2 linked regions of the Homo sapiens genome follow. The protein of the gene in region 2 interacts with the protein of the main gene of each other region in a pairwise test. Each region holds a gene or a part of one and is shown on either strand. Other genes may lie near its edges.

Evidence for each region. Proteins that work in one complex are often made in the same cells at the same time.
Region 1: the proteins of RNF34 (region 2) and PANK2 interact in binary tests that used the Homo sapiens proteins (3 or more experiments, as listed by UniProt).

Annotation. Positions count from the first base shown.
Region 1 is NC_000020.11:3,906,371-3,913,396, forward strand, and holds part of PANK2 (pantothenate kinase 2, mitochondrial isoform 7 precursor), read left to right. Parts: intron 1-1,555; coding exon 1,556-1,908; coding exon of another isoform or gene 1,909-1,923; exon of another isoform or gene 1,924-2,255; intron 2,256-4,206; coding exon 4,207-4,460; intron 4,461-6,087; coding exon 6,088-6,264; intron 6,265-7,026.
Region 2 is NC_000012.12:121,395,858-121,403,126, reverse strand, and holds the start of RNF34 (E3 ubiquitin-protein ligase RNF34), read right to left. Parts: upstream 3,010-7,269; 5' UTR 2,915-3,009; coding exon 2,909-2,914; intron 1,089-2,908; exon of another isoform or gene 1,032-1,088; intron 386-1,031; exon of another isoform or gene 329-385; coding exon of another isoform or gene 320-328; intron 1-319. UniProt on the Homo sapiens protein: E3 ubiquitin-protein ligase that regulates several biological processes through the ubiquitin-mediated proteasomal degradation of various target proteins.

The DNA of each region.
Region 1 (7,026 bases), on a different chromosome or scaffold from region 2:
CTGAGATTGTGGCGTTGCATTCTAGCCTGGGTGACAGTGAGACCTTACCTCAAAAAAGAGAAAAAGAAAATACTGTAAGTCAAAATGCATTTAATATACCCAGCCTATTGAACATCATAGCTTAGCCAAACCTACCTTAAATGTGCTTAGAACCCTTATATTAGCCTACAGTTGGGCAAAATCTTCTAGCATAAAGCTAGATGATTTAATAATGAATAATATAAAAGATAATTATTTTACAATAAAATGTCGAATATCTTGTAATTTATTGAATACTGTACTAAAAATAAAAAAAACAATAAATACTTGAAGTAGAGTTTCTACTGAATGCTTATTGCACCATTGTAAATTTGAAAAATCATTACTTTGAGCCCTCATTAAATTGGGACCTTCCATATGTCTGTGCAGTCCACTTTGATCCAATCTCTTCAGGCCTTTTTTTTCTTTGAGACGGAGTGTCACTCTGTCGCCAGGCTAGAGTGCAGTGGTGCGATCTTGGCTCACTGCAGCTTCTGCCTCATGGGTTCAAGCGATTCTCCTGCCTCAGCCTCCGGAGTAGCTGGGACTACAAGCGCACGCCACCACAGCCAGCTGATTTCTGTATTTTTAGTAGAGATAGTTTCACCATGTTGGCCAGGATGATCTTGGTCTCTTGACCTTGTGATTCACCTGCCTTAGCCTCCCCAAGTGTTGGGATTACAGGCGTGAGCCACCGTGCCCAGCCCTGCCTTTTTTTTTTTTTTTTTTTTTTGAGACAGAGCCTCACTCTGTCGCCCAGGCTGGAGTGCAGTGGTGTGATCTCAGCTCACTGCAGTCTCCACCTCCCAGGTTGAAGCAGTTCTGGTTTAGATTTCCTGAGTAGCTGGTACTACAGGTGCACGTCACCATGCCTGGCTAATTTTTGTTTTAGTAGAGATGGGGTTTTACCATATTGGTCAGGCTGGTCTCAAACTTCTGACCTCAGGTGATCCACCCACCTTGGCCTCCCAAAGTGTTGAAATTACAGGTGTGAGCCACTGCGCTTGGCCTAAAGGACATTTTGGGAACCGGTGTTAATGTCTATTGAAACCTTTTATTTTTGGAATATCAGATTTTGAAAGATAAATTGACCATTGGAGGTTATATGTTACATAGGTTTGGGAATTTCCTGTTTCTAGTTTGCTGCTAAACCAGAACTCTGAAGTCTCAATGTTTTTTTTTAAGCCGATAGGAAAGAGAGATTTTCATTCTGAATCTTTGTTTTTCACAGTTGAGGCTTACGAGTAGTCATCTTGTTATTTTTAAAACACTTCATAGTGCGGTTTGCGCTTGTCTGACAGAATGGTTGGGTTGGCTCAATACTTTGATATTTTTCTTTTTCGTCTTTGCCGTAGTATTTTTTTTTTAAGTTATGCATCTAAATCAAGACAGAATCACATTTCTTTGCCCCAAAACCCTTTTGCCTAGAATTATGTTCTTTGGAAACCCTAGCGTTTGAAATAAGTTGCTACTGTGGTAAGGGTAAATTTAATTTTCAGAAAAAAGCTGTTCTGACTTATTTTTCTTCCCCATTTAGTTTTTCCATGGTTTGGACTGGATATCGGTGGAACTCTGGTCAAGCTGGTATATTTTGAACCCAAAGACATCACTGCTGAAGAAGAAGAGGAAGAAGTGGAAAGTCTTAAAAGCATTCGGAAGTACCTGACCTCCAATGTGGCTTATGGGTCTACAGGCATTCGGGACGTGCACCTCGAGCTGAAGGACCTGACTCTGTGTGGACGCAAAGGCAATCTGCACTTTATACGCTTTCCCACTCATGACATGCCTGCTTTTATTCAAATGGGCAGAGATAAAAACTTCTCGAGTCTCCACACTGTCTTTTGTGCCACTGGAGGTGGAGCGTACAAATTTGAGCAGGATTTTCTCACAGTATGCATTTTTTAGCTTATATACAATTTATGGTAATTTGATTGTTAAAAATAATGCCAGTAGCAAGTGGTGAAATAATTTCCATCTCTAATGGAACTTGAATTTTCTTGAGTCAAATGAAGATTAAAGGTACGCTAGTGATAGGAGTTGGCCATCTAGAGGTGGTTGTCTAGTTCAGATGTATGGACGACAATCAGAACCACTAAAAGGGTAGCATTTTATTGCTCCTTTAGTATGAAAAATTAGGGCATCTGCTATACGTTGAGGAAGAAACTACCTAAAAGGAACATCATTAGATCATGAACAATGAGATTGAAATATAATTAAAATCATTTCATGTCATAAAATTGTTTTCAGTCTTGTCTACCACATAATTTCTCTTGTCTCCCTCAGTTGTTTGCTGGCATGTTCACTAACTGAAAAAAATAAGGAACTCTGGTCAAAAGTGGTGTTTTCAGGCTCAGGGCTGGTCTGAGATGGGTGACTGCAGAGCCCTCCTCTCCCAGAATGCTTTCTGATGTGTTCTGTGCTGCACACTTAACTGGAGTCTCGCCACCATGTCTGGCCCCTGGGGAATGCTGCCAGGCGCTCTATCTTGCTTTCATTGAGTGAACACTGGAGAACATTGTGAGCAAGACCTTGAGGCTAGGTCCTTTCAGGGTGGATGGTGGGGGTAGGCCGGAGAACTGACAAATGAATAAGCCAAGATCCTGACCGTCAGGGTGCAATACAGATTGAAAATGTCTTCAGTGACTGACTGTTTTTCTGTTGCTAAATGAGAGAATATTAGTCTGAAAGAGATTCTGCCTTTTTGTTTTGTTTTGTTTTCTTGAGATGGAGTTTTGTTCTTGTTCCCAGGCTGGAATGCAATGGCTCAACACAACCTCCACCTCTCGGGTTCAAGCGATTCTCCTGCTTCAGCCTCCCAAGTAGCTGGGATTACAGGCATGTGCCACCACGCCCGGCTAATTTTGTATTTTTAGTAGAGACAGGGTTTCTCCATGTTGGTCAGGCTGGTCTCGAACTCCTGATCTCAGGTGATCTGCCTGCTTCAGCCTCCCAAAGTGCTGGGATTACAGGGGTGAGTCACCTTGCCCGGCCCAGATTCTGCCTGTTATTCTGCATGTCTTTTAGTAGAGATGGGGTTTCACCATGTTGTCCAGGCTGGTCTGGAACACCTGACCTCAAGTGATCTGCCTGCCTCGGCCTCCCAAAGTGTTGGAATTACAGGTGTGAGCCACCGTTCCTGGCCTCAACTTTTTGACTAACATGCCTTGGAGTTCTTCCCACTTCAGAACATAAAGATCCTCTTCATTTTTGTTTTGTTTTGAGACGGAGTCTCGCCCTGTCACCTAGGTTGGAGTGCAGTGGTGCCATCTCAGCTCACTGCAACCTCTGCCTCCTGGGTTCAAGAGATTCTCCTGCCTCAGCCTCCCGAGTAGCTGGGTTTACAGGCGTGCACCACCATACCCAGCTAATTTTTTTTTTTATCTTTAGTAGAGACTGGGTTTCACCATGTTGGCCAGGCTGATCTTGAACTCCTGACCTTGTGATCCACCTGTCTCAGCCTCCCAAAGTGCTGGGATTATAGGCGTGAGCCACCGTGCCCGGCCGATCCTCTTCATTTTTAGTTGCTATACAGTGCTCCATAATACGAATAATAATTTAGTCATTCCTTTATTATTTAAATGGAATTAATTGATTATGAAACAGTTCAAATTTTGACTGCTAAAATTCCCCTCCCTCCCAAGAGGCTGTAGCTAGTTTAGATAGTGAAAAAAATCTTACCTTCTAACTGGATACTTTCAGCCTTTTGGCTTCAGTTTGTTAAATAATGTGTGGCCTCTTTTGATACTGCTCCAAAGCCTTGAGATGGTCCTCTGTCACAGTCCTTGTGGCTCCCACCCTGTGTCACAAGGTGGTTTCTGATAGTGCTGTGGCCTGAGCTTGGTATCAGCCCCATTGTCCCTGTAAGCAGAGATCTGAATTTCTGTTTGAAGGTTGATAAATGCTGTGGTTTTTTTTTTTTGTTTTTTTTGTTTTTTTTTTGGTCACACTTATTCAGCTGCTGCAGTAGTTTCTATGTAGAGTGTATTTGGGTCTGTAGTAGCAGGAGTCTGTCTCAGCACTGTGTCCCTAGGTTTGCTCCTAAATCTGTTCTGTAAAGCATGCACAAATAATACACATCTGTGAGTGCACTTTCATGGTTGTTTCACGTAGTGGGGATGCCTTATTGAATGGAATTTTTGTTTCTGTTGGCTTATTAAAAAGTCTGAGTACATTCTTATTTCATTACAGATAGGTGATCTTCAGCTTTGCAAACTGGATGAACTAGATTGCTTGATCAAAGGAATTTTATACATTGACTCAGTCGGATTCAATGGACGGTCACAGTGCTATTACTTTGAAAACCCTGCTGATTCTGAAAAGTGTCAGAAGTTACCATTTGATTTGAAAAATCCGTATCCTCTGCTTCTGGTGAACATTGGCTCAGGGGTTAGCATCTTAGCAGTATATTCCAAAGATAATTACAAACGGGTCACAGGTACTAGGTAAGTTGTATATAAAACTCACTGTTTATTCTTAGTATCCTAACGGGCTGAGTTTTCAGGTATTACATGTAACTACACCTTCAAGAACCTGTTAGGTGAAAGTGTTTCTGGATTATGCAAACAAATGTTTCTCTTTGAAAATTCTGATTTTATGACCTAGTTTTCTTTAATCTCTACTGTTCAAGATTTATTATCCTAGGTGTTTCTTAAAAGATCACATCAGCAGACTCATTGTAGCCTTTGCCCTCAGATAGTTTATGGTGTGCATACACAAAGTAGCTAAAGTTATTAGGCAGCATCTGTAAGGAGAAGGCACGGGAAAGGACCTAGCTCTGAAACCTGTGTAAATTTCATGCTTCCACACACATGTGTGTGTAGAATAATGATGTATTCTATGTATGTGATTTAGAAGTTGATATGTACTGATCAGTAGAAAAATTATTGAGGGAAGGTAGTATGAAAAGAGAGGATTAGCCGGGCGTGGTGGCTCATGCCTGTAATCCCAGCACTTTGGGAGGCTGGGGCGGGTGGATCATGAGGTCAGGAGTTCAAGACCAGCCTGGCCAACATGGTGAAACCCCATCTCTACTAAAAATACAAAAATTAGCCGGGCGCAGTGGCAGGCGCCTGTGAATCCCAGCTACTCGGGAGGCTGAGGTGGGAGAATTGCTTGAATTCAGAGGGTGGAGGTTGCAGTAAGCCGAGATTATGCCACTGCACTCCAGCCTGGGTGACAGAGTGAGACTCCGTCTCAAAAAAAAAAGAAAAGAGAGTATTAGGGCCAGGCACGGCAGCTTATGCCTGTAATCCCAGCACTTTGGGAGGCCGAGGCGGGTGGATCACCAGAGGTCGGGAGTTCGAGACCAGCCTGGCCAACATGGAGAAACCCCATCTCTACTAAAAATACAAAATTAGCCGGGCGTGGTGGCACATGCCTGTAATCCCATATACTTGGGAGGCTGAGGCAGAAAAATCACTTGAACCAGGAGGCAAAGGTTGCGGTGAGCCGAGATCGTGCCATTGTACTCTAGCCTGGGCAAAAAGAGCTAAACTCCATCTCAAAAAAAAAAAATGAGGATTAGATGGAAGAAGAGAATGTTTCGGCTTAAGGGTCAGAGGTCACTTCAGGAAAAACAGGCATCTAGGGATTGGGATAAACAATTTTTTTAAAAAAACAGTTGTGATTTAAATAGAGGAGTAATTTTTTTGTGACAAAACACGTTGCAGGAGGAGTATGTTTGGGGGTGTACTGATAAGCCAGGGTGACAAGGTGCTTGGATGAGAATGACTCAGGGAATGTACTTGGAGAAGGGAAAGGGAGGAGGTGTTAGCATGGCCCCAGGCGTGTCAGGCTAATTTGCACCTGAGGCTCTTCATACTTGGCAGACAGCCAGACTGCACTGGGGACATGGGCCCTGTGTTTTGTACTTTGCATGTTGGCTCACATGCATATGTACCTTAAAGGTGTATATCAGGCACCTTATCTTTTCACAGACTTGTTTCCTACCAGTGGCATTTGCATGATTGGGTTGGATATGTGAATATGGTTTTGGGGTTCATAAATGTTAACTTCTTGTTCTTATTTTTAAAAATGTTATAATACTGTGTTAATTGTTTTTAATCATAGTCTTGGAGGAGGAACTTTTTTTGGTCTCTGCTGTCTTCTTACTGGCTGTACCACTTTTGAAGAAGCTCTTGAAATGGCATCTCGTGGAGATAGCACCAAAGTGGATAAACTAGTACGAGATATTTATGGAGGGGACTATGAGAGGTTTGGACTGCCAGGCTGGGCTGTGGCTTCAAGGTAAGGGGGCATGTGTGTTCTAAGAAATACAGGCGGGCCGGGCGCGGTGGCTCATGCCTTTAATCCCAAAACTTTGAGAGGCCGAGATGGGCAGATCATGAGGTCAGGAGTTTGAGACCAGCCTGGCCAACATAGTGTAACCCTGTCTCTACTAAAAATACAAAAATTAGCTAGGCATGGTGGTGCGCGCCTGTAGACCCAGGTACTTGGGAGGCTGAGGCAGGAGAATCACTTGAACCCTGGAGGTGGAGGGTGCGGTGAGCTCCAGCCTAGGTAACGGAGTGAGACTCTGTCTCAAAAAAAAAAAAAAAAAAAAAAAAGACATAAAATAATAATATTGGGCATATTTTTTAAAAAAGCTCTATTGAGATATAATTTACGTACTATAAAGTCAGCTGTTTGAAGCGTACAATTTAGTGGTTTCTAGTATATTTACAGGATTGTGCAACCATCACTGTAATCCCAATTTTAGGACATTTTTATCATCCTAGAAAGAAACCTTGTGTTCATTAGCTACGACTCTCCATTCCCCCCACAGCCCCTGCCAAACAGTAATTTATTTTCAATGTAGGTTTGCCTCTTCTGAACATTTCATATAAGTGGTATCATACAGTATATGATCTTTTGTGATTACTTCTTCATATAGCATATGTTTTCAAACATTCACATTACAGTGTGAATCAGTACTTTATTCCTTTTTATTGCCAAATAATATTTCTTTTTTCTGAGACGGCGTTTTACTCTTTTTGCCCAGGCTGGAGT
Region 2 (7,269 bases):
CCGCGCCCGGCCTCTTTATCCTATTTAGAGCCATTTGAGAAACATATGCTCCTTAGAATGTGAAAGGATTTCTTATCAAAACTGCTGCTTCAACTGAAATACAATATGCAGGGACCTAACTCTTTCTTAGTGACCAAATATCCGACCATATACCACAAAGGAAGGAATTCTACATCCTAAATTATTTCTCTCATACCATTTGGACATTAAGCAGGTTGCAAAAACAGATGATGAACTCTAAAATGTAATACTTTTAGACAAGACATTGGCCAAACTGATCGATTATTACAATAACATGTGCTATAGATACAAATGTTACCTTCCTCATGCTTGGGTTTTTGTTTTCTTTTAACAGTATACTTGATCCTTAGTACCACTCCCCCACCTTTCAGAGAAAAAAAAAGGAAAAGGAATTACATTCAGTAGATTACTTTCTCCTTGATATCTCATTTTGAGCTTGGAAGAACCCAGATTAGCACAATTAATGGTGAGATCAATATAAATAAGGAAAAATGGGAAAGAGGATTAAATCAAATTAACACAGGGCACCAATTTGGATTTTTTTTTTTAATCCCTTATAGGAAGTTGATTGGATGTTACTGCAAGGTTAAAAAGTTACTTGAGTCTGAGAGGTAAGACCTATTTCAAAACATCAGTTTCTAAACCAAACCAAACCAAACCAAACCAAAACGCCAAAGGGAGAAAGTAAATACCCATTCCGTACATATACTAAAACCAGCTGCTCCAGGTTTGAGTGAACATGTACTTATCCATATAATTGCTTAGCTTTTCTTGTTTATTTTTAACTGCTTAACTTTTTTTTTCCTTTTTTTCTTTTTAAAATAATTTTTAATCGAGACAGGGTTTTGCTATGTTGGCCAAGCTGTTCTCGAACTCCTGACCTCAAGTGATCCATCTGCCTTGGCCTCCCAAAGTGCTGGGATTATAGGCGTGAGCTATTGCACCCGGCCAGGTATACTTGCTTAGCTTTTAATGTAATTTTAATTCCACAGAAAGAAGTATTTCCTTACATGAACATTCACATGTTAGCATTCCATGACATCAGGAATCAGTCTCTGCCCAGAAATCTACAGATGAGCATACCCACAATTAAACAATTTCAATATAAATCAACATTAAGTTAAATAATAAACATTTAACAGCCCAAATCCTCAATGGTGTAAATCCAGTTTCACAAAAACAAAAGCATCATTTATAACTGTCATCTGGCACAGGCTGATGTCTATTCAGGTCCATATTTTGCTTCTGAAAATACGTATCTTTTCTATAATTTCAATTGCCACCAAACTTTGTTTCTAAAATTTCATCTTAGAAAGTAGTACCTTCCACTTCAATTCAAAACACACGTCTGTTTTCAAAGAACTTGTTTAAAAATTTCAACACTGGACCTGTCTCTAATTCTTTCCTTCGATAGCTAGTTCCTTAATGGGCCACAAATTTAATATTAATAAAGATACTGATTCTTCGAGGCATTATATATAAAGATCCCTGCTTTGTTTTTGGATCTTAACACAGCAGAGGGTGGTTTTCAGGAAATAAAGCTACTTCTAGATACTTTAATAGATATTTCAAGCTGTAATAATATTTTATAACTAAACTGGAAAGTTAAAAATAAGCTTTTACAATATCCTCATACTTCAAGGCACAGTTCCAAAGTTACCTATTCCAAAAATATTCCTTGCTTTCTGTAGCCAGAAGTATCCTTTCTGGCTCCTGTGTTTTGTCCCTGCCTTTTTTTTTTTTTTTTTTTTGATACCTATAGCCTTCTGCCTTGTAATATGGTTACTTACAAATAACTCTTCTTTTGAATGGTAAACTGCCTTCCTAAGGGATGAGACTGTATTTTGAATTACTTCTCTTCACCATGTCTCCCTCTTGGCTAACGCACAGAAAACGTTCAACAAAACATGTGCTGAATTTCTGTGACCAGCTGACACTCTTTTTCAATCTTCTATAGTAAATCTTTGACGCTTTATGGAGACAGCGTTAATCTAGCAGCTCACCTGCTAGATTACCCACCCCCAGCACACCTCTGCACTGAGATTAACGAAACCATCTAGGTCTGAAAGTTATCATCACCTTATGACTCATCCCACTTGGTTTGAGTTCGGCAAATGAATCAATACCCTGAACTGACTGCTGTTCACAAAGCTCTTCAGAACTCTCAGTGATCGGGTTGAGAATCATCTCTCAGAAGTAGGCCGGAAACCCCGCTCCCCTTTCCCCTTTTCTTCAACTTCTCATCAGTAATGCTCCCACGCTCTCACTCCCACCTTGGAGAACTCAAGCTGCCAAATTCCTTGCTGCGTTTACCTAGTGGCGATGGAGGCACATCCAGCCTTCTCTAGTTCGCGGCCCCGACGTGCAGCCTACGAAGCACCCCTTCCGGGTGGCATCCCCACCCTGAGAGTTCTTTAACCCGTTAGCCTGGCCCTAGCCTCACCACCCCCTGCACCCCTCCTGTTCTCCTCGGTCCCACGATGTCCCCAACACTTGGGTTAGTTCAAGGACTCGGGGCGGGAAAGGGCACGCCGCGCGCCAAGGGACCGAGGCTCAGGCGAGCCCTGGCGGCTCTGCCTCAGGCCCCCGAGGAGGCGCACAGGGCCCGGCGCAGAGAGGGGCCCACCCGGCGCGAACGCTAGGGACGCCCGGCTTCTCCCCACCGCTCGGGTCGCTGACGGGGGTGGCACTGGAGGAGCTCGAGAGGGTCCGGCAGCCTGCCCTGGCTCGGTTGGGGCACCTGAAGCCGGGCAAGCGACCCCCCTCAGCGCAGCTCTCCGAGATGACGACTAGGTAACCGCTAAGGCGGAAAGAAAGGAGGCGCTTCAGGTGCCCTGGCAGGATAGGATTGGCGAGGAGGGTCTGTCCGGCTCCACCGGCCCCTCACCTTCATGGCCGCGACCGCCTCAGCTCGGCCGGCTCTACCAGGAAACTCAGCACCATAGCAGCTCCTCACACTGCCGACCTCCTTCCCTCTGGGCGGTGATTACCGCGCCCCGGGAGGCGACCGAGCGTCCGGACGTAAGGGGCGTGGTCACGCTCGCCGCGTGCCCCGGTAAAAGCGCAGAGCGGCGGCCACGACGACCAATAGGAAGCCGACTTTCGGGAGGCCGGTCACCAGAGCCAATGAAGCGACAGGGATTGGGCGGGGCCTCTGGCGTTCCTCCTGGCTGGGAGTGCGCGGGGAGGATTCTTTTCCGCCCCGAGCGAAGACCTGCGGACCTGGGCGTGGCGGAAGGCGCGCTGCGGCGCTGCTTTCTCGGTTGGGTGTTTGAAATGGGAGATAGCGTCCCTGAGGAAGCTGCTGCGGCTTTCTGGGCTAGGTGGTCAAGTTTCCGGGGAGGGGAGCGCGGGAAGGGCCGTGGTGAATTTGAACACGCCGGTTGGCTCGAAGGCCTTTGTTATGACCGTCAGAGCAGGGCCTCAGATTTCCTTCCCAGACGTTCCCGCGTTCATGCTCGGTGATGACCTCGGGGCTCCTCACTCGTGGGTCCGGTAAGGAGCGGCAGCTGCACTCGCTAGGACGCGGCCTTTAAAAACAAGACTTATTGAAAACACTTAGAAAACCAAGGGCTCTCAAATCCCAAGGGCTCTTTGAAAAGCTGTATTCAAAATAACCAAAATCGTAGCATAATAAAAGAATTTGCTCGAGTCTTGGAATTGCCTTTGGACAGAGAAACTGAGGTTGTAAATTAAGGTATCGATTTCTTCAGCTGTACTGGATGACAGTTTATTTTCCTACACCTTTTTTTTATTTTTGACAAGGTCTTGCTCTTGCCCAGGCTGGAGTGCAATAGTGTGATCTCGGCTCACTGCAACCTCCGTCTCCCGGGTTCAAAGGATTCTCCTGCCTCAGCCTCCCTAGTAGCTGGGACTTCGTGCGCCCGCCCCACACCCGGCTAATTTTTTCTATTTTTAGTAGAGACTGGTTTTCACTGTGTTGGCCAGGCTGGTCTAGAACTCCTGGCCTCAGGTGAGCCGCCCACCTCGGCCTTCCAAAGTGCTGAGATTAGCCACCGGGCCCAGCCGATTTTCCTACACTTTTTAATCTCACCTCTAACTTAACCAGTATTTAAGATTTTAAACATAAAAAAGTCAGTTCGCTCTTCATGAGGACCTAAGACTGTTCTGTTATTTATATACATTATAGATTTGCTTCGACAAGTTGTGCTATATTAGATTAAAACACACGGAGAGAGAGAGAGTGCGTGGCAGGCCACTTCCTTAGACTGAAATAATGCATCAGAGTATGTATTTCTCTTGCTTCAAGTGCTGCTCAGATAATGTCACTTCTTATCCATAATAGTCCTAGGTTTTTTTTGGAAAAATGTACAGAAAGCCTTTCATTCACGATGTAGGACGCAGCTGAGCTTCATTGGAAGAGAAAGTATTAATTAATTCTCCTAATGATCTAGACACAAAGCAACTCAATAAAAATGTTCTTGGGGTACAAAGCCATGGTTGTCCCTCATTAGAAAAGGCCTGGCAGGTCTACCTCCAGAGTTAATAAGCACATGAAAGATGCTCAACATCATTAACTATCAAGGAAATGCACATCAAATCCATGGATACCGCTGTGCGCCTGCAAGGATGGGTAACATTAAAAAGAAAGAAAATAGATGGTGAGGATGTGGAGAATTTGGAATCTTCATACATGAATGGTGGGAATGTAAAATGATGCAGCTGCTATGAAAATGCCTGACAATTCTTAAAAAAAAAAATTTTTTTTTTTTTGAGACGGAGTCTCGCTCTGTCGCCCAGGCTGGAGTGCAATGGCGCGATTTCTGCTCACTGCAAGCTCCGTCTCCTGGGTTCACGCCATTCTCCTGCCTCAGCCTCCCAAGTAGCTGGGACTACAGGCGCCCGCCACCGCGCCCGGCTAGTTTTTTGTATTTTTAGTAGAGACGGGTTTCACCGTGTTAGCCAGGATGGTCTCGATCTCCTGACCTCGTGATCCGCCCACCTCGGCCTCCCAAAGTGCTGGGATTACAGGCGTGAGCCACCGCGCCCGGCCCAAAAATGTTAAAACATACAGAGTTACCATAAGACCCAGAAATTCCACTCCTAGGTGTATACCCGAGAGAAATGAAAACCTAGGTCCACAGAAAAACGTACATGCTAATGGTTCTTAGCAGCATTATTCATAATAGTCAAAAAGTAAAAACAACCCAAATGTCCATTATCTGAGAAATGGTTAAAGGAAATGTGGTCTCTCTATGCAGTGGAATATTATTAGACCAAAAAAGGAATGAAGTACTGATACATACTGCAACATGGATGAACCTTGAAAACATCATGCGGCTGGCTGAGTACAGTGACTCACTCCTGTAGTCCTAAGGCTTCAGGAGGCGGAGGCGGGCGGATCACATGAGGTCAGGTGTTCGAGACCAGCCTGGCCAACGTGGTGAAACCCTATCTCTACTAAAAATACAAAAAAAAAAAAAAAAAAAAATAGCCGGATGTGGCGACGCACGCCTGTAATCCCAGCTACTCGGGAGCCAGAGGTGGGAGAATCTCTTGAACCCAGGAGGTTGAGGCTGCGGTGAGCCAAAATTGCGCCACTGCACTCCAGCCTGAGCGACAGAGCAAGGCCCTGTCTCAAAAAAAAAAAAAAAAAGAAAAGAAAAGAAAAGAAAAAGAAAATAATAATGCTAAGTGAAAAAAGCTAGATACAAAAAGATTATATATTGTATGATTCCATTTACAGGAAATGTCCAAAATAAGCCAATCCATAGAGATAGAAAGTAGAGTAGTGATTAAGGTCTCTGAAGGAGGAGGGGGGAAATGGAGTGACTGCTACTAGACACAGGTTTCTTTTGGGGTAATGAAAACATTCTAGGAGGCTGGGCGCGGTGGCTCACGCCTGTAATCCCAGCACTTTGGGAGGCCAAGGCGGGCGGATCACGAGGTCAGGAGATCCAGACAACGGTGAAGCCCCATCTCTACTAAAAAATACAAAAAATTAGCCGGGCGCGGTGGCGGGCGCCTGTAGTCCCAGCTACTTGGGAGGCTGAGGCAGGAGAATGGCGTGAACCCGGGAGGCAGAGTTTGTAGTGAGCCGAGATCACGCCACTGCACTCCAGCCTGGGTGACAGAGCAAGACTCTGTCTCAAAAAACAAAACAAAACAAAACAAAACATTCTAGGCCGGGTGTGATTGCTCATGGCTGTAATCTGAGCACTTTGGGAGGCTGAGACGGGAGGATCACCTGAACCCGGGAGTTCGAGACCAGCCTGGGCAACATAAGGAGATCCCATCTCTACAAAACATAAAAACAAAAATTAACTGGGTATCGTGGTGCACACCTGTAGTCCCAGCTACTCGGGAGGCTGAGGTAGGAGGATCACTTGTGCCCAGGAGGTCGAGGCTGCAGTGAGCCACTGTACTCCAGCCTGGGTGACAAAGCGAGACCCTGCTCAAAAAAAAAAAAAAAAAAAGGAAAAGAAAACGTTCTAAAATTAGCTATGTGAATGGTTGTACAGCTCTGTGAGTATACTAAAAACTACTAAATTGTATAATTTAAACGGGTGTATTATATGGTATGTGAATTATATCTCAATAAAGCTGTTAATATTGAGGAACACAAAAAGAAGAGTTAATGCAGCTGGAAAGTGGCCACAGAAGGACAATGAAAACAACAAAGGCTAGGGAGAAACTTAAGTATCAGGGGAAAATTTAAAACAGTGCAATACTTGGGAAGACTTGTCTTATTTTGTCCCCAGCACACAGATCTGTACCTAGCATAAGCAAGCTCCCAGTAAATTGTGTTTGGTTTTTTGTTGTTGCTGTTGTTTTTGAGAGAGTCTCCCTCTGTCACCCAGGCTGGAGTGCGGTGGTACAATCTCTGCTCACTGCAAGCTCTGCCTCTCAGGTTCAAGTGATTCTTCTACCTCAGCCTCCCGAGTATCTGGGATGACAGGTGCATGCCACACATCCGGGTAACTTTTTTATTTTTAGGAGAGATGAGGTTTCACCATGTTGGCCAGGCTGGTCTCAAACTCCTGACCTCAAGTGATCTGCCCACTTTGGCCTCCCAAAGTGTTGGGATTACAGGCGTGAGCCACCGTGCCCAGCTGAATTGTATTTTTTTTTTTTTTTTTGAGACGGAGTCTCGCTCTGTCGCCTAGGCTAGAGTGCAGTGACGCGATCTTGGCTCATTGCAACCTCTACCTCCCAGGTTCAAGTGATTCTCATGACTCAGCCTCCCGAGTAGTAGCTGGGGTTACAGGTGTGCACCACCATGCCCAG